Regions from separate parts of the Homo sapiens genome. Here regions 2 and 3 are each linked to region 1. Evidence: fine-mapped expression QTL. A gene starts in region 1. Each other region holds a variant in brackets. All regions are shown on one strand. Distances are between the middles of the regions. Region 1 holds the start of TMTC1 (transmembrane O-mannosyltransferase targeting cadherins 1). Region 2 overlaps TMTC1 (transmembrane O-mannosyltransferase targeting cadherins 1). Region 3 overlaps TMTC1 (transmembrane O-mannosyltransferase targeting cadherins 1).

Evidence for each region.
Region 2: its variant is fine-mapped to the expression of TMTC1 in liver (GTEx, PIP above 0.99).
Region 3: its variant is fine-mapped to the expression of TMTC1 in whole blood (INTERVAL, PIP 0.99).

Annotation. Positions count from the first base shown.
Region 1 is chr12:29,776,480-29,787,141 of GRCh38, forward strand. TMTC1 (transmembrane O-mannosyltransferase targeting cadherins 1) reads right to left here and starts at 7,463. Exons shown (of 18, transcript NM_001193451.2): 1 at 6,971-7,463. The coding sequence starts at 7,272.
Region 2 is chr12:29,660,080-29,671,355 of GRCh38, forward strand. The region is part of intron 5 of TMTC1 (transmembrane O-mannosyltransferase targeting cadherins 1); the gene reads right to left. Among named protein-coding and RNA genes, the nearest start is that of TMTC1, 120 kb to the right of the region's middle. RefSeq lists an enhancer at 2,632-3,133. The variant G/A (reference allele first, on the strand shown) is at 5,237.
Region 3 is chr12:29,674,049-29,683,614 of GRCh38, forward strand. All of the region lies in intron 5 of TMTC1 (transmembrane O-mannosyltransferase targeting cadherins 1), which reads right to left. Among named protein-coding and RNA genes, the nearest start is that of TMTC1, 110 kb to the right of the region's middle. The variant A/G (reference allele first, on the strand shown) is at 5,902.

The sequences.
Region 1 (10,662 bases):
ATAATCATGTAGCCTTACCTTAGTATTTACCTGAAAAATCTGAGCAGTCACAAAAAGGATTTATTCATTCTTTAAAAAATTAATTCATTTTTAATTGACAAATAATATTCCTTCTTTCAATGATAAATCTTGAGTCCCTACTTTGCAAGCCAGGCTTAGTTGTAGGTGCTAGAGATAAACCTCATGGAGTTTACACTGTAGTGAGGGGAGGTAAAACTCAACAAAGCAGGGTAAGGAAATAAGGGTAAAAAAACACAGAGGAGTGTTTGCTACTTTGATCACCTGGCCACCAGGGAAGGCCTCCGGGATGAAGTGACATTTAGGCAGAAACCAAAGGTGGTGAGCACATAAGCCCTGCACAGATCTGGGGAAAAGCATTCAGGAGGAACCACCAATACATGCAAGGCCTTTGGTAGCAGTGGGTTTGGCCTGTGCAAAGAACAAGGGCTCTGGAATGCTGGTGCAGAGAATGAGGTGGAGATTGGTAGACTAGGGATCAGAGAGGTAGCCAGGGGTCAGATCAAACAGGACTTCATAGAAAAGAAACAGTATCTTATTATTTGGGAAAGAAACACTGCCATTGTGTGGGCATGATCAGGCATTCCTTACCCCCCTCTCTCTCTTTTTATTTTTTTTAACAGAGTCTCGCTCTGTTGCCAGGCTGGAGTGCGGTGGTGCAATCTCGGCTCACTGAAACCTCTGCCTCCCAGGTTCGAGCAATTCTCCTGCCTCAGCCTCCCGAGCAGCTGGGACTACAGGTGCACACCACCATGCCCAGCTAATTTTTGTATTTTTAGTAGAGATGGGGTTTCACCATGTTGGCCAGGATGGGTTTGATCTCTTGACTTAGTGATCCGCCCGCCTCAGTCTCCCAAAGTGCTGGAATTACAGGGCATGAGCCACCGTGCCCGACCTCCTTACCCCTCTCTTTAAGTGAGATGATGACATACTCAAAGTTAGGAAAAATATGAATGTAGCTCCAAAGAAAGACAGAAAAGACATTGGTTGGTAATAATAGACTGCTTCGGAAGGTGATTTCCAAGCCTTGATTCAGGGACTCACCTATAAAAACCCTCATGAGTCCAAAAATATATTCCTCTCACTTTCTGTCCCTCCTACACTACCAGACTGTAGTCTATAAAGTATATCCTACTAGATTATAATCACAACCTCCACCTCTTGGAGCTTCCAAGATAACCTTAGGGTGGCATAAAATTTTCAAAGGCAGTTTTTCATTTTTCTTTATAAAATTTTTCTTGCCTCCAATCACATTTTCCCTTGGTTATTTCTGTCACTGAACATCCTAGACAATCTAGTCAAACATCCTAGAGAATCTTCACTTGTGTCCTATGATAGACTTAGAAAACAAACTTATCAGCCTTGTGGCAACAGGCTGTGTCAAAATGAAATCCCACAGAAGTTGAATGAAAAGGAATAGAAACAAAAGAAACATATCACCGTTTCTTTAAGGTTGTGGGCATGGAGGTTAGCTAGTGCTTATTTTCATGGTTGGCATACTATTTGTAACTAAAAGATGCAAACTACTGCAAAAAACCTTCAAGATCAAACATTAAAATGCTGTAAATTCCTACAGCTGCACATATTAAGATAGTCTATTTTTTGGCTCTGACATTTTAAACCACCCACTTTCACTCTTATGGTTTATATTACCATCAGAAGCTCTTAATAAAATAAAGCATTATAGCAAATATAATCTAATAGGCTAAACACACAGAGAAAGAATCAGGATTTTAAAGTCCTTTCATTTGCTTAGTTTCCCCATCTTTAACATTAAAAAATCATTGGTTCTTGCTTGTTGAAGCAGACTTCCACCTGCTTACTGAATGGAATGGCACTGCGAACAATTCAGCAGTATCTTCTTCCCAAGAGAAGGGTTGGGATAAAATTAAAAAGCTAAGTTTATTTTAAACCATTCTGGACCATTTTTCAAGGGAGGGGTTATGGACATCATAGAGTTTGGTTCTGTGTCAATTCACCCTCTACAGAGTAGCTTAATGCATTTCTCTTGATTTCAGGCTTACAAACAGGTCATGGCCAGGGAAGGAAAAAGAAGCAAAAAAAAAATGTTATTGCTGCAGAGTCACAGATGTTTTGATTCTGTACCACTATGGTCCAAAAATATTCTTGCATGCCCTTGGGCATGATCTTATGAAAAGACTGAATCTGAGATTTGACTGGAAACAGAAATTCATTGTAATTCTAAATTCACTTCAAGGAACACAAAGAGATGGTCATTTGTATCAGTTAGGGTTAGACTAGAAAACCAGAGCCACCATGAGTGATTCAGAAGAAGGGATGTACTATGGGGATCTGACCTTTTACTATTGCTGGGGCTGGTTAAATAGCCTATGTAAGTGTGATGCTTCTGTGTCTATTATCCAAGTTGAAAGCCAGCAGGGCAGCAGGGCCATTCTGGAAGAGAGGGTGAATGGACTTGAAGTAGGGGGAAGCAAAGGCAAAATGGAACCCACAAGGATGAGCTAAAATACATGTCTGTTTTCCACTGCCTTTAAGGCTCCAACTTTAACAATGCAAGAGGCTTGCAAAAAGACTGGCACTCTTCCCTGCAGAGCTGCATACACACCTGCACCATGATTCCAAGTAGCTGAAAGACGAGATCTGGAGAGCACTGGAGGAGCTGAGGGCCTGGGTGCTGCTGCAAACCAACAGCATGTTCACCAACATTTCTGTGACAAACTGCAAGAGGCCTGGCAGCAACAAAACCTATGCCAACATTCTGAATGTGATCTTAGCCACTTCACTTTCACCTTCCAAATCTTGCAGAAATTTTTCTTATGGTCAGCCCTAACCCAGATCATCTTGCAAAGGCAATTCCAAGAAACATAGTCCCAACTTAGCTAAAGTGACATAGTGCAAAGCCACCACATCTTGGTAAGCTGCTTTCATATTCCACTGTCCCATCCCCTCAAAACTGGTAGAAGTAGATGGTCTGCAACCCATTTCCTCATTTCAAATTTTAGTTCATTTCTTACTTGAAAAAATACATAATTAGTATCTTTACTACCTAAGCAAGCACTTTTATTATTTATTAGTATACAAGCAACCACCTTTATAGCAAAAAGTATTATGCATCTATAAATTACATTTATTCTTAAGGAAATTTCTAGCTCTCAGTATGCGTAAGATACATTCAATGAATCAAAAATCAACTTACATTTTAATAAAAAATATGTTTGGAGTATTGCACTGAGAAAGGTCCTGTGAGGAGGACAAAAAGACAAGCTACAGAGTGGGAGAAAATATTTACCAATCACATACTTGACAAAGTACATGTATCTAGAATATATAAAGAACTTCAATACTCAACATTTAAAAAAAACACTTAAAAATGGACAAAAGACACAAAGGCACATTTACCAAACTCTTTGGTTTAATATCAGATGTTCAATAGCTTCACCCATTAGGGAATGGTAAATTAATGAGGTACATATATAGGTGTGATATCACTACATACCTATCAAAATGGCTACAGTAAAAAACAGCAACAATACAAAGTGCTGGCAGAAATGCACAGAAACTGGATTACTCAGACACTGCGGCTAGGAACATCTGGAAAACAGTATGGCAGCTTCATATAAAGCATATGAACATGCAGCCACCATATGGCCCAGCAATTGGACTCCTGGGCATTTAGAACAGAGAAATAAAAATCTATGTTTACATAAAAACCTGTAAGTGAATTTTTATAGCAGCTTTATCCCAGCCAAAAGTTGGAAACAACCTAGATGTCCCCAACAGGTGAATGGTTATACAAACTGTGGTATATCCATACAATGGAATACAACTCAGCAATAAAAAGGAACAAACTATGGATACATGCAACAGCCTGAATGAAGATCCAGAGACATGCTGAGTGCAAGAAGCCAATCTCAACAGGTTACATACTATGTGATTCCATTTATACAACAGTATTAAAATGGCAAAATGATAATGGAGAACAGATTCATGGTTGTTATGGATTTGGGTGAGGGGATTATGGATTAGGCAGTTGTTATAGATTAGGTGTCCATGATTGCAATAAAGAAGTACTGAGGATCCTTGGGATGGAATTGTTCCGTATCTTGACTGTGGAGGTACTCTCTGAAATCTACACATATGATAAAGCTGCATAAAACTAAATACACACTTAGTAAAATAAAAAAAATAGAAGTACATATAAAATGGGTGAAATCTGACTAAATGCTGTAGATTGCATCAATATCAATTTCCTGGTTGTAATATTATACCATAATAATACAGGATGTTACCATTGGGGGAAATGGATAGAGTAGAAGGAATCTCTCTATTATTACTTAAAACTGCATGGGAATGCACAATTACATTAAAAAAGTTTTTAAAACGGGTTTGAAATCTCAAAGTTTTTGCTCAAACAAGCATAATTTAAGATACAGTTAAAATGGTTTGCACATATTTAAAGGGCCCCTTCAATTGTGTTTTCACTATCTAAAATAAAAATCATAAAGACGTAATCTATGTGAAGTATCTAGGCCAATGCTTGGTTCATAGCGAATAGTTAATAAATACGGCTTTCTGTCCTTCCTTGTACCATCCTGTAGAGTTGTATGGTTCTAAAATCACTGATATCCTCCAGCTTCATGCTATACCTCAGGTGAATATAAAGAAAACTGTCCAGTCTTATTTAAATCAATGCATGTGAGGACAGAAAGACTACTTAACATTCTCTTTCTGAAGAGGCAGTTATCTCTTTCCAATTAGTGCTGTGTTTCTCTTCTAGATTTGCAACTCAATCTTCTCAAAAAAAGAGTGTATCTTTCATAGGCAGTAGCATATAATATACAGCAAGCCATGCCTCTTAGACACCAAGCTGCTTGTTACAATCAATGATTACCACAAGAGTCCCTCAGCTCTCTTCCTCCTGAATCCCCCAACTCTCCTTTGCCCTTGTTCTGTCAACTCCTAGCCAATTTTCCTCTTAATCAATGGTCTTACTTCTTTGTCTACTCCCTCCACCCCTCCCTTATGTGCCTGCTGTCTCCATTATGAAGAAAAATAAAACATTTTAGGTGAGGTACAGTAGCTCATGCCCACAAGTCCAGCACACTGGGAGGCTGAGGCTTAAAGATCGCTTAGCCCAGGAGTTCAACACCAGCCTAGACAACATAGGAAGACCCCATATCTACAAAAAAAATTTTAAAATATATCTGGATGCACGGCATGTGCCAGTAGTAGTTCCAGCTACTTGGGAGGCTGAGGCAGGAGAATTGCTTATGCCCAGAAGTTTCAGGCTACAGTGAGCAATAATCATGCCACTGCACTCCAGGCTGGAGGACAGAGTGAGATCCCATCCCAAAAAAGAAAAAAAGAGAAAAGACAGAGAAAAAAGAAGAAAACCTTCTAGAAAGTCAAGAAGTGAAAACACCCTTCCCTACTCTCCAGCAAGTAGGCACAGGCATTTGACTCTGCCCTTTTTAATTGAAAAATACTCAGACCTGTGACCAGGATGGTCTCCATGGCTGTTACAAAGATAGCAAGCACATCTCATGCTGTGAACTTGCACATCCTAAATTAACCAACAACCCTGACTGTAATAATGAAAAAGCAGGTCAATCTAGAAGTGAAACATTTATATTTGTCCCAAGGAGATTTTAAGAAACATCTGGGAAACTGAATAGCGAGGTTAGCCAAGGTTATCTTTCAGTAGAAAACGAGAACAACTTTCTAAGAGAACAAATGTCTATAACACATTCTCTTCAAAGTCAAATATGTAATTTTCTCACTCTCCTTAAAAACATTAAACTTTCAGTGGAAGACGTAAGTCAAAAGCCCATGAATTGTTGCCGATTGCTATGGTTTCCTTTTCTGAGTCATCAGAGACACCTGTCAAGAGGCCTCAGCCTCTCATCCAGAGCAGGCTTTTCAAGCTGCCAACCCAGTCTCAAATAATCATTACCATAAACACGGGTTCCTATTACACCCGTTGCAAAAAGGCTTAAAACGCCGATAATAGCGCACCAATATTATTTCAACAGTTTTGACCGGCGCGTTAAAATGAACTTCAATGCTGAGCCACATTATAAAGGGTTGAGTCAAGCTCCTGATTGTGTAAGATAGCATTTCCCTTAAATGAGCACTTCTCTTCTTTCCTCAGAAGCTAGGCTTCTTTTCAAATTAAAGAAAATACTCCACCCCTCAAAAACCTGGCATATTCTCGGTTCCCTTTACGCTTATTCACACCAGAAACGCTGAATCATGACTCCGAGGTTGTAAAAGAAAAACTATTTCGGCTGGGGCCCCAGGGTCCCTGGAGAAGCCTAGGCTCTGCGTTACCTCTCTCTGCACCTTCTAAAGTCTAGATCCAGAGAAGTCTGGCAGATTGGAGAGCCTCTGGGAGCAGCCAAGGGTGCAAGGCGGGGGCTGGGGGGCTCGGGAGAGTTTTCTGCTCCCTCTCCTGAACCCACGCAGCCCTGTCAGCTCAAGGCTCCCGCCTCGTCTCATCTGAACGAAACCCTTAAGGGGCTGATACACTTCTCATCTGCAAAGCTGCCCAACAGCCTCCGAGAAATTCTCTACTTGGAAGCATCGCCACCACCGCCACCCCTCCGGAACCCTCTGGGTCCGCGCTAGTCCCACTTGGTCACGATCCGGCAGGCGAAGGGGTGCGGAGGCGGTTTCACCAGCCCGCTCCCAGCCCTGCCTCGAGAGAGAAGCCCGCTGAGAGGGCAGACAGTTGAGAAACTCGATCCCAACTCCCCAGCCGGCGCCTCCCGAACCGCCCCGAGAGCCCAGATTAGCCGGGCAGTGGATCCCGGAGCAAAGTGCCATGCACATCCTGGAGAGGAGGGAGGCGTGGAGGGAAAGGGCGGCAAAAATGAAATGCCCCCAAGTCAGTCCCGCAACTTCTCCCGGTCCGAGGGACGGGCGGAGGGTAGAGGAGGCAGCGGCGGCTAGCGCGAGGTGAGGGACTCACTTGAAGGTGAGGACGCAGAGCGGCCGGTAGGACTTGTGGCTGGTGTTCTCGGCCATGCCCTTGCCCCAGAAGTCGTTGGTGAAGATGCCCCAGCGGAGCGGGGCGCCGGGCCGCACGTCGGGGTTGTTCACGATCGCCCACACGTCGTCGTGCACGAACTCGCCCTGCAGGGAGCGGCCGTAGCACAGGCAGCTTGCCCCGGCCAGCAGCGCCGCGGCCCCGGCCGGCGCTAGCCCGCAGCCCCGCCGCCGGGAGGGTGTGCGGTCCCCGCCGCCGCCTCGGGCAGAGGTGGTCACCACCATCGCGCCGCCGCCGCCGCTGCTGCCCTGGCCTCTCCCGGGCGTCTGGCATCCTCCCCTACCGGGGCCCCGGCGGCGCGCGGCGTCTGCCCGGAGGGGGGCTCGGGCATGGTGCTGCGGCAGCTGGACCCGCCGCGAGCTCCCCGCGCTCCGCCGCCGCCTGCGCCGCGGAGTTGGCCCAGCTGCAAATAAACAGCAGTCCCCCCGCCTCCCCCGGCCATCGCCACCTCCTCCGCCCCACTGCGCATGCCCGCTCGCTCTCTCTTCCACCGCCCCCCAATCCCGGGACGCGGGCCGGTTCCCCCGCACAGCCCGGCGCCCTCTGCCCCCGGCCCGCCTTGCTTGCAGGTGGACCGGGGTTCGCGGCGCGCGGCTGCCCGGGAGCTGCGGGGAAGGACACCCCAGGTTCCCACTTGCGGTGTCCGGCTGTGCTCACCCCCACGCCCCCGCCCCCATCCTTCTCCCCCGAATGGGGCTGGGAAGGGGCACATCTGGCGGACCCCTCCCGGGGGACCCAGGAGGGTTTAGCAGGTGCGCAGTCTGGAACCCCCACACCCACCTTCCAGGGAGAAAAGTGCCGCTGCTTCCCGGGAAGTTCCCGGCTTTTCAGCACCCGGGACAACAGCAGCGGCGCCCGGAGAGACGCTCTCCACCCGCCCCGCGCTCGCGTCCAGTCGCCGGCTCTGTGCTCTCCTGCCCGGGCTTTCTCTCACCCGCCCGGCGCGGCGTCCCGCTTGGCGGAGGAACCCGCGGGGATAGGGAGCACCTTCCTCAAAGCCAGGAGAAGGGGTCTCCCTGGACAAGGACATCCTGCTCGCCCTGCCCGGGTGTGTTCAGAGGCGCCACCGGCTCTTTAACTTTACAGCCCCTTTCTTGGCCCGCACTTACAAAAAGTACCAGGTTCGAGTTTTGGTTTGGGCCTGGGAGCCGAATTGTCTTCTGAAACATTTCTTATTTTATTGTTTGCTCAAGATAATTTGGGAGATGCCAAGCAAACTACTTTTTCTATCTAGCTGGATCACTTGGGTCTCATTATTTCCTGGGCTGTGGGCGTGTTTGAACAGGGCGGGGAAGAAGGTGGGGATGGGGGGATGGGGAGGTGGGGGCGATTTGTATTAGGGCCTCTGGCTTTGGCTCCTAAACTTCCTGTCTTTCTGAAAGATTGTTTTCTTTTTTAAAATACTAATTTTAATAATATGTCCCAGAGTGATGATTACTAGAATTTCTCCAGGTCTGAAAATTCTATTTGTTCTTTCAGGCACCTTCTAAATTTCCATTGCTGAGTGTTAGAAGTTATCAGGAATTTGACACATCCAGATAGAAAAACTGAAAATAAAAAGTCACCCTTTTATTCTCATCCTCCCCAAACCCTTAAAAAGCTCACCGACATAATCCAGAAATTGTTCCTCTGCTATGAGTATTTGTGTGGCTCTTTACTATAACAACTTACTTTTTAAAAAATTTTAAGACATCTGAGCAGTTGAAAAGTCAATGAATTAAGATAAACTTATTGTAACTCAAAGTACGTTTCACCCATTTTCACTTTGTTTATTTGGTGACTTGAAATTAGTGACTGAGAAATGAAACTGGAAGTCCTGGACATGGATGTTTTCATTCTTCCATCAAAATCTTTCACGCTTGGTAACCTTAATATACCGACTTTAATATCTAGACACACCTGAGTCTATTTCCCCGTATAACACACTACAGCCTTTCCTATTCACCTATTAACTTAATAAAAATATATTAAGGAGATTCTTTGTGCTACAATGTGCTAAGTATAGGATTGGAAGACCCAAAGCTGCTCGTGTGTGTGCGTCTGTATGTGTGTGTGGTTAACACCATAAAAGTCTAGCTTTCTAAGTTAACAGCTGATTGGGATAGTGAAATTATCTTTGCTGAAATCATAGTTGAGGTAATAGGTCAATGTATCAATCCTTACCTATAATTAACGGAGGCTTTCTAGAGAGAACGTCTTAACCCAAAAGAGTGACTCTAGGCCAGGTGCAATGGCTCACACCCGCAATCCCAGCACTTTGGGAGGCCAAGGCAGGAGCGTTGCTTGAGGCCAGGAGTTCAAGACTGGCCTGGGCTACAGAGTGAGACCCTGCCTCAAAAAAGAAAAGAAAAGAGTGGCCTCTAATAGTAGATTTTTATAGAAAGAAAGTCTTTTTTCCTTCCTCAAATTATCCTTAAGTCATCCTTTTCCAAGGAAGAGCTCTGGCTACCCCCTTCTTCTCGGAGTTGTTTTCTTTTTTAGATGGAAACAGTATCAGAGTGCTCCATGACCATGGAGAGTAGTGCAGGACTTGGGACTGAGACTCCAAAGAGATCATAAAAAGAAGAGATAAAGGAAACCTGAAAGTAGGATTCCTGGTTACCTAATCTTTCCTCTAGGTTCAGTGGCATCTTTATTCTATTTTGCTCAGATGACAAATTTGAGATTGACTTAAAATAGTGAAATGCTTCAAGTCTTCTCAAGGACAACTGATCAGTGAATATTTTTAAAAATTAGTTCCTTCGGGCCTGGCATGGTGGCCCACCCCTGTAATCCCAGCACTTTGGGAGGCCTAGGTGGGCAGATCAGGTCAGGAGATCGAGACCATCCTGGTCAACATGGTGAAACCCTGTCTCTACTAAAAATACAAAAATAACCTAGGCGTGGTGGCACGCGCCTGTAGTCCCAGCTACTTGGGAGGCCAAGGCAGGAGAATGGCTTGAACCTGGGAGGTGGAGGTTGCAGTGAGCCAAGATCACGCCACTGCACTCCAGCCTGGGGACCGTGTGAGACTCTATCTCTAAAAATAATAATAATAATAATAATAATAATAATAATAATTAGTTTCTTTGCAGCCTCATCACCTCCTGATTCAATACTGCTCTGTGTGGTAGGAAAAGTATAGAAGTACTGATGTCAGAGAGAGGTTTACATTGATATGCCAGCCCATCAAGCCATTTGCTTCTCTCTTAAAGTGGAAAACATCCATCTTGACTAATAAAGGGGCCCAAAAGGAAGTTAGATTTAATTCTTGTTACTTAGCCTCTAATTATTTTTAAAGGATTGATAATTAGCGCAATACTACCTCCTGAAACGCCTTGTGTCCACTCAAAAGCAATTTATAATAAAACATGAATTATTGTAGAAGTACCTCTCTGAGGCTCATATAGATTAAGTCACTCATGCAAATTAAGATGGACCATATTTCTGAAAGAGATTAGGACACAACTAAAAATAAATCAAGGGCAAGCTATTGTAATAAAACCAATTTCAAATTACTGCTAACAACAATTCTTTGCTTGACCAAACTTTAGTTAGTCTTCTGAAACTTCCTAGCACCATCATTGTACTTCCTTGTAAAATCCAGTTTTAGCAAAGAACACTACTAAGTCAGT
Region 2 (11,276 bases), 120 kb before region 1:
ACCCCTTCCCTTAAATCTGAGTTAGTCTTGTGGCTGGCTTGTACTGACCAACAGAACATGCAGAAGGTACCTTACCTCTGTTCTGGACCTAATCTTTGGGAGGTGCAGCAACTTTTAGTTCATTCTTTTAGAAACCAGCTGCCATGTGGCAAGGAAGTCTTGACTACCCCTCTGGAAAAAGAACTAACAGGGAGAGGCCCTCGGGGATGAGATATCACGTAGAGGAGAACTGAGATGAACTGGCTCAGACGATAGCTGAATAAACTTCATTGAGTAACCTCAGCCCCAAATCATGATGATCAGAAGAACCGAAAAGCTGAATGCTGCCCAAACTAAAGCAGGTAGGGCAAATACAGGGTTGTTATATTTAAGCCACTAAAGCTGGGGGTGGTTTGTTATGCAGCAATAGACAACTGATACAGCCAGGATTGCACTGCCTCCTCTTGAGACAACTCAGCCTCAGCATCTTGAAAGGGACTCATAGAATACTGCAGTTCACATTGTCCACATCATTAAATCCACATATCCCTGGAATGCTTTCATATATACCTTTGGACGCTTTGTAACATTACGGCATGCCAACTGTTTGATCCCAATGTCATGATGTTAGAGTCTATTGCTGATTCTATTAAATAATTTGAATTACATGTCTGAGCTGAGATAGAGTGGAAACATTCCTTATCAGATATTTCAAAAGTATATATATATATATATATATACTTACATAACTTAGGACCAAAATGGCCCTTTTTAAAAATGGTCTCATGGTAAGCAGGAAATTTCTATTGCTGCTTGCTCTCAGATACCTAAAACGGGAAAGAAAAAAAATCTTAGATAAGTGTGTCTACCAGACACAATGTTCTCCTTTCAAGGTGAAGACGCTGCAGCTCTGAAGAAGGCTGCAGAGAACAATGCTGAGAGCAGGGCCTCTGGAGCCAGAACACCTGGGTTTCCGTTCCCAGTTCTGCTGCTGCTGAGAGCCCAGGAGACCTCGGGCAAGTTTCCGAACCTCTTTGCACATCTATTTTACTCACTTATAAAAGGGAGACAATAATAGTATCTACCTCACAGGAAAGTTGGGAGGAACAAATGAGATAATATCTAGAACAGGACTCAGCTCTGTTAGCTATAAATATTACTATCCCATCGAATCCCAAATAACCCAGTCATTTTGAAAACAATACAGTTACACTGGTCACAGGGATAATCTTAAACAAAATAAGAGTTTATTTACCTACTTAATATAATTTGAAGGCTCCAATGTCTTCCATCCACAAAATACCTCACAGATCTCTTACCTCTAAAAATAGAAGATGCCAAGGTTGTAGGAGGTTAAGTAATTTTTTTTTTTTTTTTTTTTTGAGACGGAGTTTTGCTCGTCGCCCAGGCTGGAGTGCAGTGGTGCGATCTCAGCTCACTGCAACCTCCACCTCCCAGGTTCAAGCGATTCTCATGCCTCAGCCTCCCGAGTAGTTGGGACTACAGGTACTTTTTGTATTTTTAGTATTTTTGTATTTTTAGTATTTTTGTATTTTTAGTACAGATGGCGTTTTGCCATGTTGGCCAGGCTGGTCTTGAACTCCTGACCTCAGGTGATCCACCCACCTCAGCCTCCCAAAGTGCTGAGATTACAGGCGTGAGCCACTGCACCCACTCAGTTAAATAATTTTTTTAAGGCAACAAAGTTATGAGTATCTGTGTTAGGATTAGAGCTCACTGGTATCCAGTGAATAATTTTCTCACCTCCCTGTGGTTCTTGGAACCAAACTAGGTTACAAGAACGTCAGCTTCTAGAGGGGCAGGAACCTGTGTGGATCCTGCCCTGCTGTAGCTTACTCACTTATAGGAATTGGGAGTTCTGGATATCTACATATAAGACAAGTGGTTGGCTGGTTTTAGAAAAAGATGATGAAAGGGAATCAAGAGACGGTATTAAGAAGCCCCAAATGAAAACATAAAATAAGTCATAAGTCATTTTCACCTACATGCAAAATTCTACACGGAAAATACAGAATGGAGGGGGAAAACAAAAGTCAAATCAAATAGCATAAACCGCAAGCACTTCCCACCTCATCCTTATTTCCTCTATCCCTTTTCATTGTTTTTTTCTCCTTTTTAAATCCAATTTTTCCTCAAAGGGGTTTTCCCCAACAAAATTTGCATTAAAATCTGCATGAGGTCTCTTTACACAAAGGTAATGTTCTATAAGGTAAGAAATCCTTTTGTAAAAACCAGAGTGGGTTAATATCTCACAAAGAAATGTCTATCCACCTTGAGGATTGCTTACAATGGCCAGGTGAGGTGGCTCACGCCTGTAATCCCAGCACTTTGGGAGGCGGAGGCAGGCGGATCACGAGGTCAGGAGTTCGAGACCAGCCTGGTCAATATGGTGAAACCCCATCTCTATTAAAAATACAAAAATTAGCCAGGCGTGGTGGCAGACACCTGTAGTCCCAGCTACTCGGAAGGCTGAGACAGAAGAATCATTTGAACCCGGGAGGCGGAGGTTGCAGTGAGCCGAGATCGTGCCACTACACTCCAGCTTGGGTGACAGTCCAGCTTGGGTGACAGAGCGAGACTCCGTCTCAAAAAAAAAAAAAAAAAAAAAGAGGATTGCTTACAAAACACATGTGGCTCCTCTGCTTTGTAACAAATGGTACTGTGAGGAGGTGAGAGCCTCACGCTTCCTTCTCACCTCTCTTTTCCTCTGCCTGGTCCATAAAGAGCTGTGGAAGTGATACATGCTCAGATCTGGCCGTTCAAGTATTTAATGAGTGGAGAAAACGAGGAGTCCAAAAAACACAAAAGAGAGTTGGCTTTTAGCAAGCTCTGGACTGGATCCATCCTCAAGCACTGCATTTAAATCCCTTTCATCTTCCTTAGCTGCCAACAGAGAGCTTGACAAGAAAGAACACCAGGGATACTGTCAGCTCTCACAACCCACGGGGATAGCTACTGTCCCAAAATGGGCTTTAGGGGGTCCGCTGCTTCCTGAAATTTACACAAGATTTTGTGTGTATTTTTCTGAGGCAAAGTCCTTGACTTCGATCTTTAGTGTCAACTGGGTTCTTCGTTGCCTAAAAGGTAAAGCCCTGCTCAGCGTCCTTCTCTCAGCTCTGCCTCTATTGTGACTATTATTTTCAGGCCAACTCAACCACGACCACTCTGGTTATTTCTGCTGTTCCTTTTCAGGATGTATCAATGGCAGCAGAAAGGCAAAGAGAATGACACAGTGGAAATGGAAAAGGTGCTGGGGAGGGCTGGAGAAGTAATACATCTGAATAAAAAGGCACTTTCTGGGGTGATCTGCTTCTGGAAACGTCCTTCCTCAAGTTCCCTCTGTTGCCTGTTTATTTTAACATAGTGGAAAAATTAGCAGTGGTTTTCCTTTCTATAGAACAACAAACCACAAAGTTTAGGATATTTTTAGGTAAATTTTCCTTTTCTTTTTTCTGAAACAGAGTCTTACTCTTGTCGCCCAGGCTAGAGTGTAGTGGCGTGATCTCAGCTCACTGCAACTTCTGCCTCCCGGGTTCAAGCTATTCTCCTGCCTCATCCTCATGAGTAGCTAGGATTACAGGAGCCCGCCACCATGCCTGGCTAATATTTGTACTTTTAGTAGAGACAGGGTTTCGCCATGTTGGCCAGGCTGGTCTCAAACTCCTGACCTCAGGTGATCCACCCACCTCGGCCTCTCAAAGTGCTGGGATTACAGGCGTGAGCCACCACACCCAGCCAATTCTCCATATTTTGTTTCTCTGAAAGCTTGCTATGATGGCTATTTCACTGAGTCATATTTGTAAAGTGTCCCCTGGTTTCCTGAGAAAGTCCATTTCTCAAGAAGCTAAAGGCACCAAATAATTTATTGTTAAAATGTAGCGGCGGATCACGAGGTCAGGAGATCGAGACCATCCCGGCTAAAACGGTGAAACCCCGTCTCTACTAAAAATACAAAAAATTAGCCGGGCGTAGTGGCGGGCGCCTGTAGTCCCAGCTACTTGGGAGGCTGAGGAAGGAGAATGGCGTGAACCCGGGAGGCGGAGCTTGCAGTGAGCCGAGATCCCGCCACTGCACTCCAGCCTGGGCGACAGAGCGAGACTCCGTCTCAAAAAAATAAAAATAAAAAATAAAAAAATAAAAAAATAAAAAAAATAAAATAAAATAAAATGTAGCATCCCAATGTAATGAAAGCCTAAATTGGTAAAGAGAGCAGTGGACGAAAAAAAAAGATGACCTCTTCAAGATTTCTATTTCTAGTTGTTGACCAATAGTAAATGAGAAAGTAACCCAAAATAACATGGCCCTCTTTTTTGGTAAACACTAGGTCAGAGGCTGAGATCCCTAAGCTCAGACAGGAGCACTCTAAGGGCTAAATTCTCTGCATCTTTTCCTCTTCCCCTACCCACACCAAAAATAAACAAACTTTCCCCATCAGTCCAATACACACGATCTGTGAAGTAGAACCAAATAACAACACTCAATAACAATACTATTAACAGCAATAATAAAAATAGCAACAACTAATATGTCCCAGACACTAATCTAAGTGATTTGAGTGTAGTAACTTATTCACCACTTACAACAATTCCATGAGGAAGAACATTATAATTTCTTTCTTCTAAAGGAGGAGAACATAAAACTGGAAATAATACTTAACTATGACATCAGATTCTCTCAGCTATTCATTGCAACTATAAGATAAAGTACCTAAAATTGTCTTCAAATACAATTTACTATGTAAATGCTATTACTATTTTTTTCTAATTCCAGTCAAGTTCTCCATTCTTTTCCTTGCAAAGCCAGAGAACATGTCAACAACAAAACCAGACCACTGATGAAACCAACAGAATGAGAACTAAGGGTCCAGGGTTCTATTCCTCTGATCCCATCTAACTTGTCACATGATGTAAAATAAATCTACCTGAGCTTTACTTCCTTCCTTTATTAATGAATGTTAGACCAAATGGTCTCAGGGTCAGTTTTAGGTCTAAAATATTGTGATCCTTGGATGTTCTCACCAACTGATGACACCAAAACTGACGAAGGAAAAACGAAGAAACTACCCAATTTCAAAAAAAAAGAGAAAGGAATGTCAAGGGATTCGTGAAAAGTCAAATATTAGTTGACCCTTCACCTGGAGGAGGCCCTTCAAAATTTGAAGTTGCATATGAAAAAACAGTTGAACATTAATCGAGGGTATTGGCATCAAGGTTATTGGCATTGTAAAACAGTATTT[G/A]TAACAACTTCTGATTCTTGCCAAATAAAAGCAAAAGACTAAGGTTAGCCATAGTAAATTCCCTAATCTACGCTCCCACATACCCAAATTTTCTGACTACTCACATCCACCATCCCAGTATATCATGTTCAAATAAAGGTCAAGTTTACCATCCATAGTTACTTGGTCCTCAAATCCTATTGAGAGATATTAGCAGAGATCAGAACAACCAGCCAACCATAATCATCTACCCACCCATAATCTTGAGAACTAAATAAATGCTTATTATAAATCAATGACCTTTGTTAACACAGAATTATCACGTCAATAAATAATTGATCATATGACAAAGTTTCTTTGTTTGACCAAAACCTAGTCAGGTTCCTGAACCTTCTCCTAGGCCCATCTGTGTACTTTCTTGTAAAATCCAGTCTTAGCGAGAATCCCGCTAAATCAGTTTAGCCAGAAACCCCCACCATCAGAGCTGATCACTGTCAATATCTAATCAAGTTTTTCATCCTCCACCGTCTCCCAGGAGATGTCTCATCACCCTGGCCTATCTTTAGGAATAATCCTGTTAGGTCTATTTAGCCAGAATTCTCCCTTATTCATGATGTTTTCTCTTAGTAATTTTCCATCCACTGATGCCCCCCCAACCCACCACACCCTGCTCACTGGCTATAAATTCCCACTTGTCCATGCTATATTCAGAGTTAAGCCCCAACTCTCTCCACTACTGCAAAATTCCATCACAGTGGTCTCCGTATCAATTGCAACAGACCCATCCTCACCTTAAGGTTTTCCTTACAGTGCTTTAACAAGTGTTATTTGAATATTTTTAACACATATAGCAAGATGATCAATAAATGCTTACTGAGCCAAATCAAATTGTAAACATCTACCCCTTTTCTTTTCTTTCTTTTTTTCTTTTTTCTTTTTTTTTTTTTTTTGGAGACGGAGTCTCGCTCTGTCACCCAGGCTGGAGTGCAGTGGCACAATCTCGGCTCACTGCAAGCTCCGCTTCCTGGGTTCATGCCATTTTCCTGCCTCAGCCTCCTGAGTAGCTGGGACTACCACCATGCCTGGCTAATTTTTTTTTTGTTGTTGTTGTTGTATTTTTAGTAGAGACGGGGTTTCACTGTGTTAGCCAGGATGGTCTCGATCTCCTGACCTCGTGATCCACCCGCCTCTGCCTCCCAAAGTGCTGGGATTACAGGTGTGAGCCACCACACCCGGCCTACCCCTTTTCTTTTTCTGTGTTTTCCTTACCCTCTCGTGGTAGATCAGGGTACAAAATAAAAGTGCTCACAGTTTGGAATGTGGCAGCAAGTTGGAAGAGAAAAACCACTTTCCACTGGAAATGGTAATAGTGCCATTTCCCTTACCCGGAATACTAATGATTTCAATGAAGATATGAAATTAGTCTTTCCAGCTGTTCTCAGAATCTATAAACACCTGATAATTTTTGCCTAAATGTCAGCTCCAGGTAGCAAACATCTCAGATACAATGAATTGTAACTGTTTAACATTATAGCAACAAATCATAAACAGTGATATATGAAATTTCTTCTAGAACATCAATCTTAATTGACTTAACTTCCTTTGCTCTTTCAACGCAAAAAGGAAATTAGTAAAGAGTCACATATTCAGATCAAAAAAATGTTTTGGAATCAGAGCTTTTTCAACAGAAATGCAGATTTACTGCTTCTCTTTGAAACTCAAGAAAAAAGATTTCTCAGTTGATCAGAATATAGCAAAGACACAGCTCACATCAGAAAAAAAGCAAAAGCTTAACAAAAACAACAAAAGAATTTTAAGTGTCTTTTGACACTTAACAATAAAGGAAACTTAAGTGTTTATGGGTTCTCTCTTTAATGTACTTTCCTTGAACCCATGAAGTGCCTCGTCTAAACCTTAATAGGCAAAGGCATTCCATGGAGGAGTCGAACAACCTTTGATGTCTCCTTTGATATTCAAATAAAGATTCTGAAGGAAAGGAGCTCACTATTCTAAGAAAACAATGATGCATATTTCAGTTCTATCTACTCAGAAACTCAGACTGACCTTCAATACCCCATTCTAAGGCTATGATAAATTTTCCTTCCAGAAATTTTAAACTCTGAATTCAAGTTACTTCCAAGGAAACAGTTACTTCAATTATCATATATTAAACGGTGAAAATGACGACAAAGAAGCCATAGGAGAAAATAATTTCAGTTCTCTTAACCATTCTGCAAATTAAAGTTAGAGGTGAAAGGAATCAAAACAGCTCATGTAGTTTTATAATGAGGGAAAAAAATGATGCCCAGAAATGTTACTTGGCCTGCAAAAAGGTCATGATGTTTCAGTGTCAAAGGTCAATGAGTTTAAGCTTCATCAATTTACTTAGAGGACCTTATTTTTATTCCCTCTATGATTAATTTAGTTGGAGGCCCTAGTTTTTTATTCCTTCTACAACTAATAGCAAAAATTTCAGACATCACCCTTGTCTCTCATTAACAGTCCCAGGGAAGTTTCAATTCATTAGTGATGGCAGGTACTGAATCCATTTAATAGGCACTAATCACTGTGCTAAGCACCTTACCATTTTTATTTCATACTAGCCCTGTGAGTCCATACTTGTCCCTGTCTTGCAAATGAGGCGGAGGAGGTACTTACTCAGGGATCTCATGGCTGGCAAGAGGCAAAGGTGAGACCCAAATCTAAATCCAAATCAAGCATTCACTACTCTGTACAGCACAGAAGTAAAATAGAGCTGGTTTATTCAGCATGTTTCCAACACAGATCATTGTTAAACTGCATTTCTGCATGTTAACAACACAATGACTTCTGTCTTAGTCTGTTCATGGTGCTGTAATAAAATACCACAGACTGAGTAACTTACAAAGAACAGAAATTTATTTCTTCTAGTCCTGGAGGCTGGAGAGTGCAAGATCAAGGCACCAGCATCTGGGAGGCCTGGTGAAGGCCTTCTTGCTGCATCCTCGCATGGCAGAAGAGCAGAAAAGCAAGAGACATAAACTCTCTCTGAAGCCTCTTTTACAAGGGCGTTGACTAATGCACCTCCCAGAAGGCCTCACTCTTAATACTACCACAATGGGGATTAAGTTTCAATGCAAATTTTGGAAGGGATTCCACATTCAAACCATACCAACTTATCTTTTTTTTTTTTTTTTTTTTTTTTGAGATGGAGTCCCACTCTGTCACCCAGGCTGGAGTGCAGTGGCACGATCTCAGCTCACTGCAACCTCCAACTCCCAGGTTCAAGTGATCCTCCTGCCTCAGCCCCTCTAGTAGCTGGGATTACAGGCACATGCCACCATGCCTGGCTAATTTTTGTACTTTTAGTAGAGACAGGGTTTTGCCATGTTGGCCAGGCTGGTCTTGAACTCCTGACCTCAGGTGATCCACCCACCTTGGCCTCCCAAAGTGCTGGGATTACAGGCATGAGCCACTGCTCCTGGCCCCAGCTTCTAATTAATTAAAAGTGATAAAGATCATTTCAATATCTTCTTCAGTTCATACAGTTCTACAATGAAGGCTTTTCATACAAATGAATGAAGTTAACAGTGCACAATTTTTGAAAGTCCTTTTAATAAGCACGCTTTTAAAAGTTAACGCATGTAGTGATTGCTGCAGGTTGAAACACAAGTGCCATCCATGTACCGTGGACTCAGAAATTCTAAGTGAGAAAAAATGGTAAGAAGGAGAATGAGCAGAGCTGGGAGGGCGTCACTGTGTGGTGAGATGGCCAACCAGCCTGTCCCACAGAGAGAAGCAACCAGCAGAAACAGGGAGTGGGACAGATGAGGATGCTCCAAGTGACAAATGTAGCTGACACCTGAGGAAGATGAGAAGTGAATTAGGTGCAAAGAGATAGAATATGATATATATACAGAGGCCTAAGATTGAGAGGGCAAGCTCAGAGGGAGAAAGTGAAAGAAGTCCATATGGCTGGAAGATCTAATACTGGTACAGTGGTGAACAGAGAGACTAAAGTGGTAGGCAGGGGCCCTTTCACTCCGGGACTTCATGGCCCATTGTGGAGTTTAGACTTTATTCTGATGGCAATGGACAGTCAGTGAAGGGCTTAACACAGAGAGATAACCCCATCTGATTTCCAATAGTGCAGTGTTAGCATTGCATGACATTGGTAGAGTGCCCACTCTGAAGTCCATAACAAAGAACAAGAGGTCCAGCAGCCTCAAGGGGGACATGGTGAACACCAGGAAGTAGACAGCTATTTTGGAAATTTCCGAGATACCAGATGTAGAAACAAATAAGAGGTTCTCGTTCAAGTAGATAGAGAGACCTTATCATAAGAATAAGTGAGAAAAGCATGTGTTACGTTTACTTAGCAGTATGATTTAGGTGTTAAGTATGTTTCTACTATAATCTTTTGTTAGTTGGTCATCAATTTGGTATATATAAAAACTTGCTACTAAGAAGAATATTTAATTTGCCAAATAAACTCCCTTTAGAAGAGGATACATAGTATGTATTTGTATGGCATTTATGTGTCAAAGAGCTTTTCGATTCATTCTAACATTTAATCTTTGAGATATATTCATGAAGTGGGCAGAACAGAGAGAACTGGCCCCATTGTACAGATTTAGACCTAGGGAGCAGTGGGTCTAGCACCAGGATTGAGTCTCCTGATGGCCAATTCAATGCCTTTTTGCTGCATCACTGGTCTCCTCTCTGACCACACATTTGCTGTGTTTTCCGTTATTTCCATCCATCCAAGTTTGTTGCAAACCAAAGACTAAATAATCCATGCAATAAAATCACTGCTACTTGCAATACACATTTGTGTAAGTGCACAAGTAGACGTTTGCACTAAGAAAAAGATTAAAACAGTCAATAGTACTATAATGATATTTTCTGATCCTTTTACTGGGATACATGGATGGATAAATTCAAGTATAATTAAGCTAGTGAAAAAGAGTATTTGATACTGGGACTGTCTGGGTAAACTAGTGAAATACATTTCCTGTTAATGACAGCAGCAAATACCATTTAATGAATACCTACTGTGCCCCAGGCATGGTTCTAATGCCTGTAATCCTTAGCACATTCCTGTCAGACGGGCACTATTAATATCTTAATGTTGCAAGTGGGGAAACTGAGGCATTAATGGTCAAATAACTTGTCCCAAGGTTCCACAGGTAGTAAGACAGGGGTGTCATAAATTCAGTCTGTGCCCTTAATCACAAAAGCTCTGCTACCTCTCACGGCATTTCCAACAAAATCTCTGTCTTTACCGTCCCAGGAGGATGCTTGAAATTCAAATACTATTCTCACAGATGTTTGTACACATCAGTGACATACATTTGAAAGGACATGAATTCAGGGTCAGTGTGGTGGCTCATGCCTGTGATCCCAGCACTGTGGGAGGCTGAGACAGGCAGACTGCTTGAGCTTAGGAGTTCCAGACCAGCCTGAGTAACACTGCAAAACCTCATCTGTATTAAAAATACAAAAAAATTAGCCTGGCATGGTGGCACATGCCTGTAGTCCCAGCTACTCAGGAAACTGAGGTGGGAGGATTGCTTGAGCCCAGAAGGTGGAGGTTTCAGTGAGCTAGCTGAGATCGTGCCACTGCATTCCAGCCTGGGCCACAGCACGAGACTCTGTCTCAAAAAAAAAGAAAAAAAAGGATAGGAATTCAGGATACCAAGATATACCTGATCCATTTAAGAAATTATCAAAAAGTCAGCCAGGCGCAGTGGCTTACGCCTGTAATCCCAGCACTTTGGGAGGCTGAGGTGGGCGGATCACGAGGTCAGGGGTGTGAGACCAGCCTGACCAGCATGGTGAAACCCCATCTCTACTAAAAATACAAAATAAAATTAGCTGGGTGTGGTGGCATGTGCCTGTAATCCCAGCTACTTAGGAGGCTGAGGCAGGAGAATCACCTGAACCTGGGAGGCCTCCGGAGGTTGCAGTGAGCAGCGATTGCACCACTGCACTCCAGCCTGGGCGACAGAGTGAGACTCCATCTTAAATAAATAAATAAATAAATAAATAAATAAATAAAAGAAATAAACAAAAAGTCTAC
Region 3 (9,566 bases), 100 kb before region 1:
ACGCCCAGCCTTGCCAGAGGGACTTCTCAGGGTCCCTTTATGTTATGCTCTCGAAGGACAGTACTCTTGACAACACAGAGGCAGCTGGTGTGGTGAAGCAACCACAGGCCCTGGGGTCACAGAGATCTGGGTTTGAATTCCAGCTCATTCAGTTATAAGCTAGGAGACTACGCAGGCCTTTTAGCCTCCCTAGGTCAAGATAATTTCCACCTTACAAAGTCATCAAAAATATTTCTATGAGATGATATATGCAAGTGTCTCACCACAGTGCCCAGCACATAAAGGTGCTCAAAGTAGCATTATTAGAATAGTAACCAGAAATCAGCTGAAAATACTAAAACCCTATGGCCTATCCTTCAAGACCAGAAAAAAACAATCAGAAACAAATGAGTAAAGGAATGCAGCTAGGATTAGTAGAGGAAAAGATTTAATCTCTCTCAAGTTCTGTCAGCTCCCTCCTTCCTGGAAGGAAAAGAAAAAAAGAACGAAATATTTTCCTAGAAGACAAAGCTATAATTCAGCATTCAACACTCTTCTTGCTGACGGGACTCCTTTAGTTCAGCTGTAAAGGTTGTCCATGCACAAGGCAGCCAGCTCAGGAGGAGGGAGGGAGGTGGCCTGTGAGGGCTCAAATCCAGCCCATGCTCTGTTCAACGACCTGTGGTGCCCAGGCACTGGCTTTACCTGCCGTAAAGAAGGGGGGGCCTTTTCCTAATTTACTCAAAAGAGCAAGAAGTGCCCACACCTCAAACATCACGCACCCACCATGCCTCATGCCCACAGTGTTTTCTATTTTGCATAAAGATCCCCAATGGGCCAGCAGCAGCCCTGATCTACTACTATGATTATTACTTAATACCCACTAGACAGCTTCATTGTCCTAATGATTTTCACAGGGGCTTGTTTAATCTAATGTTTCCATTTTCTTTGCAGCCAATTTCATTTTCTCACTGACATATTACAGCAGTGTTGCTATATTTCCAGTCACCGGACCATGTGCAAAGTAACTTAATGTTAAAATGAAGAATAACATTGGTTTCTGTCTTAATTCAGCTAAGTTTCCCTTGCAGATTCAGCATGGTACTTTGTACAGTAGTCATTTAATTCATCAAACTGTGTTTAAAAAAATCCTAACCATACAAGTCTTAACACCACATTTACAAACCCCACAAACATCAGGGCCCAATTTGAGACTGTTATTTTAACAAACACAATTTTCCTGTCCTAAACTTAACTCAAGTCCAACTGAACGTCCACTGAAAGTTTTCCAGTCTAAAGTTTCCAGATCATAGAGATTTTCATACATGAAGCTGGATTTTCATCCAGTGTGACCAACCCATTCAGTTTGCCTGGCACTAAGGAGCTTCGTGGGACACAGGACCTTCAGTACTAAAACTGGGACAATCCTGGAAAAACCTGGTCACCCTGTGTGCCATCCTCTAGTAAGCTGGTACAGTACAGTAGAATAAACTGCTAAGGAGTAGTTCTGCAAAAGTCAAAGAAAAAAGTGGTTTCTCTGTGCCCTGGACACACATGCAAATACACACACACACACACACACACACACACACACACACACACACCCTCCATGACTTTCTGTTTCTTGTGAATAAGAGTTTAATCAAAAACGAGTGTTTCTCTGGTGGAAGATATCTACTAATTGGTTCAACTTGTTAATTCTGAAAACATGAGAACTAGAATTTTCTCACCCACGCTTTCCAGCTGTCAGACAAATCTTTTCATCTAACTTGGATGAGCCAATATAAGGTATTCTTAATAGCATTGTTCCATGAAAGTAACAAAATGGAAAGGAGGGAAGGAAGAGACAAGGGTTTAATAACCATTAAGACTGTACAGAGTCCCCCTCTGTGTGCAATCAATGGAATTATAATGACTTTGTTTAGTGGATGATAAAGCTGCCTGGTTGATTCTAACAGAAGCTGATATTTCAAAAACGAAATTGAATCAAGCTTACGCCATTAATTAAAAGGAATTTGATGGTTTTCATTTTAAAGCACACCATATCTATAAAGGATGGACACAATAGTGCCTAAATAATCTTAGCTGCAAATAACCTAAACATTCAACAAAACTAAAATTCCAAAACCTCACACTTGTAATTTTGAAACATTTATCTGTTCATACACTGCTACGTGTGTCAGATATCCATTTTAATTTTTAAATATTGGTTAGGACTTAATTTAAAAGTTTGTGAGTTTTCCTATTTTATGTAACTTTCTTTTACTACCTTTTCCTTGTATATGCAAGCTTTATTGACTATAAGATTATCCAAAATGATTCCCACTCTCCTTAAATATGAAGACTCCAATTTTCTGGGTCCTATCACTATTATCAGCACTCAGTGGTCTCTTACTCTGACAAAAGAACCAAACTGTAAAAGTTAAGCGAATACTTCAGACTGACAAAAGCAATAGATGTTAATCAGGAGAGAATCAAACTCCAGAGCATATATTTTGATACATCCTTTGCTCAAGTAGGAAACCTGATGCCTGCATTCCTGCCATAGTCAGTCAGAGATCGATTTCCAGGGATCCCATCTACACTCTGCCTTCAAACGAAAGGTCACCTCCAGGAGCGATGCACTGGGCACAGTCTCTCTTCAAGACGTGAGGACACGGCAAATGGTGCTAATTCCACTAGGCAGGGGATTAAAAATCATGATTGATCACCAATTTTCTAACTAGCACTCTATGAGAAACTGATAGAAGATGATGCCCTCGTGCAGCCAAATGAAGCATTTTGTGGGCATGCTGGAATGAACCCTGAAGCCAGGCCATATCAGTGTGGGCAGTTGGGGAGTCATTAAGTCTTGACAGAGCTGGCTGGCATGCCACAGTGTGTGAAGAAGAAAAACATCCTGTCCTCCTATAATATGATTTGAGGGCCAAAATAATACAATTCACATCAGGCCCTCCAGAGGAGATGCAGACAAGGTCCAAGTCTGGTCCTTCTGTGGAAATGAAAGTACTGACAGGCACACAGATATCCCTCTGCCTAAAAGCATTTATCATTTTAAGCCATTAGGATTTTCAGTTCCACCTTCAAGAAAACAGCATAAATAAATTCACTGGCCTCTAATTTTGCTGTTTCTCTTCTTTATCTAGTCAATGTAATGGGTTTCAGGATCAAGGTTATTACAAATAAAAATAAAATCAGATTTGCAGCATGAATAACCCTTTATCTGCATGTCTGTTTAGTACCTTGTGATTTTTTTGTTGTTGTTTATTTGTTTTTGTTCTTACCACATCTTAACAGGACCAATGGGCCTACTCACTAATAAGCACATCCTGCAGTTATTTCCATACATAAAATATGTGCCATAAAATATGCATAGAAGCACAAGCAACCCAAACAAGATAAATGAATTAATCCTACTGTATGAGCCATTCTCAGACAACTAAATGATTTAATTTCTTCATTTACAAAAGACAACTATTCCATCGTTATACCGCGGTAGCCCCCTTTATCTGCAGTTTCAGTTACCTGCAGTCAATTGCCGTCCAAAAATAGGAAATGGAAAATTCCAGAAAGAAAAAATTCATAAGTTTTAAATCACATGCCTTTTAAGTTGTTCCGAGTAGCATAATGAAATCTCACATTATCCCACTTGGTCCCACTTGGGAAGTGAATCCTCCCTGTGTCCGGCATATCCACTCTGTTCACCCATTAGTGATGTAGCAGCCAGCTCAGTTATCAGATCGACTGCCGCAGCATCACAGTGCTTGTACTCAAGGAACCCTTATTTTACTTAATAATGCCCCACACATGCAAAAGCAGCGATGCTGCCATATGGCTATAATTGCTCTATTTTATTATGTTATTGTTGTTAATCTCTTACTGTACCTAATTTATAAATTAAACTTCATCACAGGTATGTATATATAGGAAAAAACGTAGCAATAGTATGTCTAGGATTTGGTACTATCCATGGTTTCCGGCATTCACTGGAGTTCTTGATACGTATCCCCCACAGATAACAGGGAAGTAATTTATTTTAGAAATTTAATAAACTAATATTTCTGCAACATTCTGAAACTCATTTACTGAACAACTTCATCTGTTGGTGATACATACAAGAATCAGAGATGAACAAAAGTCACTTCTGAGCAATCAAAACTAATATTTCAAACTCACAATTTTCTGACTTTCATTTCTAAAACAAAATAAAACCATAGAGAAGTGCTGCTATACGGTGGCTGAGATTGGCTTATAGTTCTCCAGATATTACTTCTTCTTCCTGAGCACACAACTTCTCTGCTTTGCTTACAGTTAGAGATGGCCATGTGACTGAATTCTAGCCAAAGGAAGGTAAGTGGACGTGACAGGCAACAATTCCAGGTCTGGCCCCTAAAATCTTCCCATAACATTTAAACACCCAAACATTCTCTTCCTACTTGATGAAGACAAGCATGGTGACCTCCAGCCATTGTTTGAAGATGCAGAGCCACAAGATTGAGGGACAGTGGGTTTCCGAATCATAGTGTAGAGATGAGGTGCCACTAATCAGGGACATTTGTTTCAGACTTGATGTGAACAAGAAATAAGCTTCTACTGTGTGTGAGCCACTGTTCATGGCTATGGTTATCTTAACTAGTGGAGATGCCAATAGTAATGAGAAGTAGCATCAAAAAGCAAGGAGAAATCTATAAATTCATCTTTTGGAAACAAATGTGAGATGCTCTAAAGAACTTAGGTAAGCAACATTAGTGTCTCAGTATTTACAAACACTACATTAAAAAAACTATAACAGAACACAATGTGAATATGGCTACCATGAAATGGAAAAAAAAATCATGGACTTCCCATGGGAGTAAAAATTTGTACAACTGTAGAATTTTGTCTGAATAACAATTTGGCAACATACATCAAAACCTAAAACATTTCTCCAACCATTAGCAATCACACTCAAATCCGAAATGCACAGAAAGAGTTATGTCCATAATATTTATTAATAAAAAACCTGGATACAACCTAAATATCTAATATAGGTGAATAGCTAAATAAATTTTCATACAACCATGCAGTGCAATATCATTCAATGATTTTAAAATTATCTTTAGAAGAATAAAGACATGCAGGAACACTCATTATATATTACTAACAAAAAATAAAAGAATACATGACAAAGCAACACATTCAATATTCATCCAGTTGCTAAAATGTATATATGTACAACAACAGATTAGTGAGCTATGCAGCAAAACAATAATAGAGGTTTCCCCTGGGTATTGATATGATTCATGTATTTTAATCTTTATTTTATAATTTTCTGTAGTTCTGAATTTTTAGTAATTAACATGAAATACTTCTATAGTCAGAACAAAAGTCAGTAAACGCTATTATTTTGTAAAATTTCTTACAAATTAAAAATAAGGAAAGACAGAATCTCTAAAATCAGATATAAGAACTAAAGATCAAGGACCAGACAAAAATATGTTAGGCCAGCTCAGAAACCTTTATGGAATGGGCTATTCTAATAGCATTCCTCTATAACCAACATTCATAGTGATGATGCTAATATACTGCTATGGAGTGATCGCAGATAAAGGAAAAATGTGTACAACATGCTATCATTTATCTAAGTAGGAGGCTATATACATTAAATTAAAGCTAAACCAAACTGAAGAAGAGAAGAATAAAAAAAGAAAGAGGAAAAGAAGGAGAAAAAGAAGAAAGGGTAACCTATAAGTAGAGGGATGAAACAGGATAGAGAGGACTAGAGAGACCTCAGGACTAGAGAGACCTCTTTACTGTACCCTGTTTTGTAGATTTAGAAGCAGTGTTTACATTATTATGAAATAAAAGAAAAAAACATGAAACAAATGATCCATAATCATAAACTATATAAAGTAGGTTTAAATCTCAATAATTTGACCATAT[A/G]TACCTAGTACTATATAACTTAAAAACAAAAAGAATTATTAAAAACCCCACACACTATTTTTAATAATCACTTTGTTTCTGGTAATGATGGCATTGTTATTTTGAGACTTCTGGGAGTAATGTGGAATAAAGCAAATAAGTAATTACGCTGGTGTCGTTAGGAACCAGAGTTTTCAGTGGCAGCAAGGGAGACAGAAATGTACCATCAATGAGATTAAGCAAAATCCCTATAGCTCTGAATTTGAATAGAAAACATCAGACTGAGCTCGTTATCTATTTTCATATTTTAAAAGATAATTGATTTTGACAGAAGTCTCCACTGAAAAAGCCTAGAAACAGTGAGCTATCCAGTAGGAATGAGCACCACAATGCCCTGATTTGGGTCCTAAAATTATTTCCAAAGAAAAAGAACCAAAAGCTCTTGAACAAATGGCTGTTTCCAGGTCGGAGGTAGAAAATAAATAAGATGAGGCTGGGTGTGGTGGCTCAGAGGGAGAGTTAGAAAAGAATTAATAAAGCCCTTTCCTTTTATACATAAGAATGTGACTTTTAGTTAATTTTCTCTCTGTTCCACTAGAAATCAGATGAAGATAGAATGCCAACTACGTTACAGTCAATATTGCCTATGGTAATATTATCCCTGATTGATAAACTGCAACTAAACAAGGAGGAATTATAAATGTCCCATAAATACCTGATGAGAGTGGTGTAATTTGGGCTTCCCTGAATGTGTTAATTCTTGTAATTGGGTATGTCTCTTATGTGAACACTGGAAGCCTGTGGAGTTGTTACAAGAGATATGGTGCCTTGTGGGACATGAGACTCTTAAGTAGGGGCAACCCCTGAAACTGCCAGATGAGAAGTAAACTAAATAAGCAATGAAGGTCTAACTGATCCCAGCACTTTGGGAGGCCGAGGTGGGTGGATCACTTGAGGCCAGGAGTTCGAGACCAGCCTGGCCAACATGGTGAAACCCCATCTCTACCAAAAAATACAAAAATTAGCCGGGCATGGTGGCACATGCCTGTAATCCCAGCTACTTGGGAGGCTGAGGCAGAAGAATCACTTGAACCTGGGAGGCAGAGGTTGCAGTGAGCCCAGATTGCACCACCGCACACCAGCCTGGGCAACAGAGTAAGACCCTGTCTCCAAAAAAAAAAAAAAAAAAAGAAACAAGATGAACATGAAATATCTGGAATATAAAGCATGACAACTGAAGTCATATAAAGTAACTTAGAGTAGTTCCTGTGGACCAAGGTGGAATATTTGAACATTAGTAAGAATAAAAACAGGTAAAGAAAATGAAAGAATCAAGCATTTGTCCTGTGTTGCCTATATAAACTGTACCTTCCTCTCAGGGTAATCAAATGTCTCATGAAGGAATGTCTCTCTTGATAGATATTCTGGCTAGTAAATTAAGAGAGAATACTAGAATTAGAATTTCAGTTTTTCAACCAATACTGAAATAACGGACCTAGGTATATGGCAACTCACTTCACAAAAAGAAAAACAACCAGAATTATTTACTTCCTCCTAGAAGTACACAGCACCATCTATGAAGTATTCTAACCAAAAAGAGAAACCTTGAATGCACTCAAGCCTCTAGATCTAGCTGTGAACTTACAGGAAATTCAGTGGACAGAGGCACACATCAACTGACATCATAGGGCACAGTCAGCAAAATGCAGATTGTGGGAAGTGTTACAAGGCCCCTCCCCCTCCCACCCCCACAAAAATAAAGGCAAAAGCAAAAGAGGAGAAAGAGTGAGATGGGAAGGTGGAATCTACAGATTAATAGAGACTTTAGAGGCATATCAACCAATTGCAATGTATAGAAATTATTTGTATATGGTTCAGAATACACAAGTGAAAACATGAAATGAAGGGAAATGTAATGAGTAATTGCCCATTTAATGATATTAGGATTTAGTGTTAATTCCTTTACATATGACAGTAATTGTTGAAGGTGAAAGATGAGGGGTTTATTACACTTATTTTAAAAATTGTGTATATGTTTGAAATTTTAACTAAAAACAGTGTTTTTTAAGGATACTTATTTGATAGAGAATTAGTATCTATAATAAATTAAGAACTCCCAAAACTCAACAACAACAAAAAAGGTGATCCAACTAGAAAATGGATAAAAGACATGAAGTGGTGTTTCACTACAGAATATATACAAATAGCCAATAGATGGCCAATGTCACTAGCCATTAGGGAAATGAAAATAAAACCACAATGAGATAATACTGGTATCACTAACCACCTACTAGAACAGCTAAAATGAAAAATAGAGCAATATCAAATACTGGGGAAGTCCAGAGAAACAGGATCTCTCCTATATTACCGTGAGTCACTCTGGAATATAGTTTGGCAGCGTCTTAAAAAGCTCAACATACAGTTACCATAAAGCCCATCAGTTGCACTCCTGGGCACTTATCCCAGATAAATAAAAAATGCCCACACAAAAACCTGTACATGAATGCTCATGGCAGCTTTAGTTGTAATAGCGCAAAACTGAAAGAAAAAAAATTTACTAAAAAAAACCAAAATGTACCACAGTCTGTGAATGGTTAAACAAACTATAGTACATCTGTATTATGTAACACTTCATAGCAATACAAAGGAAAGAATTATTGATGCAGTCAACAACTTGGATGAATCTAAAAGACATTATGGTGAAAAAAAGCCAACTGTAAGAGACCACATAATGTATGATTCCATTTACATCACATTCTCAAAGTGACACAAGTACAGAGATGGAAAACTGATTAGTGGTTGCTAGGACTTAGAGTTGGTTGTGGGGTAGAGAGTGGGTGTAACTACAAAGAGACAGCATGAGGGAGATCTTTGGGTTGACAGAGTAGCTATATATCTTGAGTGTGGTGGTGCTTACATGAATCCACAGATATGATAAAATGGCATAGAACTATACACACATATTGCATGGATGTCAATTTCCTGGTTATGATATTGTACTATAGCTATGTACAATGTAACCATTGGAAGCAACTGAACAAAGGGGATAGAGAATCTCTCTCTACTATTTCTAGATTTTCCTGTGCATCTGTGTTATAAAATAAACAAATTTTCTTAAAAAGTTAAGCTAACCTAGTTCTAAAGCCTGTGTCTTTTCCCTTGTGCCATGCCACCTCATTACTAAAGAACAGTAAACTCAAAGCATGAACAGATATTAAAACATAGATTCAACATCTGCAGCTGGAGATGGTTACCCTTGTCGGCAAATGAATTACCAGAACTCCTGGCTTCATTCCTTTAATGTACAATACCAGGTTTAGGATTCAATCACGAGGTCAAGAGGGTTTAAAACTGAAATCAGTAGAAACTCTGACTTTTAAAAAGCAAAGTCAAATTCATTTACATCACTCTTCCCAAAAAAGCATCTAGAAACAGAATCCCAAAAAGTAGAAGAAAGAAGATTTAAAAAGAAAGAAGTTAGGATAAACATTATTATTCCAATCCAGAAAGAAGTAATTTAAAGAAAATCTTGAAGCATCTGAACTAAATTATACTCATCAAATTCTACATAAGCCTCAACGCAAAATATGCTTTTGTGTGTCTACGTGTGTATACGCAAGGGACCCGCAGTCAATTGTGTGTAACATAAATAAACACTAAATCATGGTCTCTCTTGCCACAGCAGT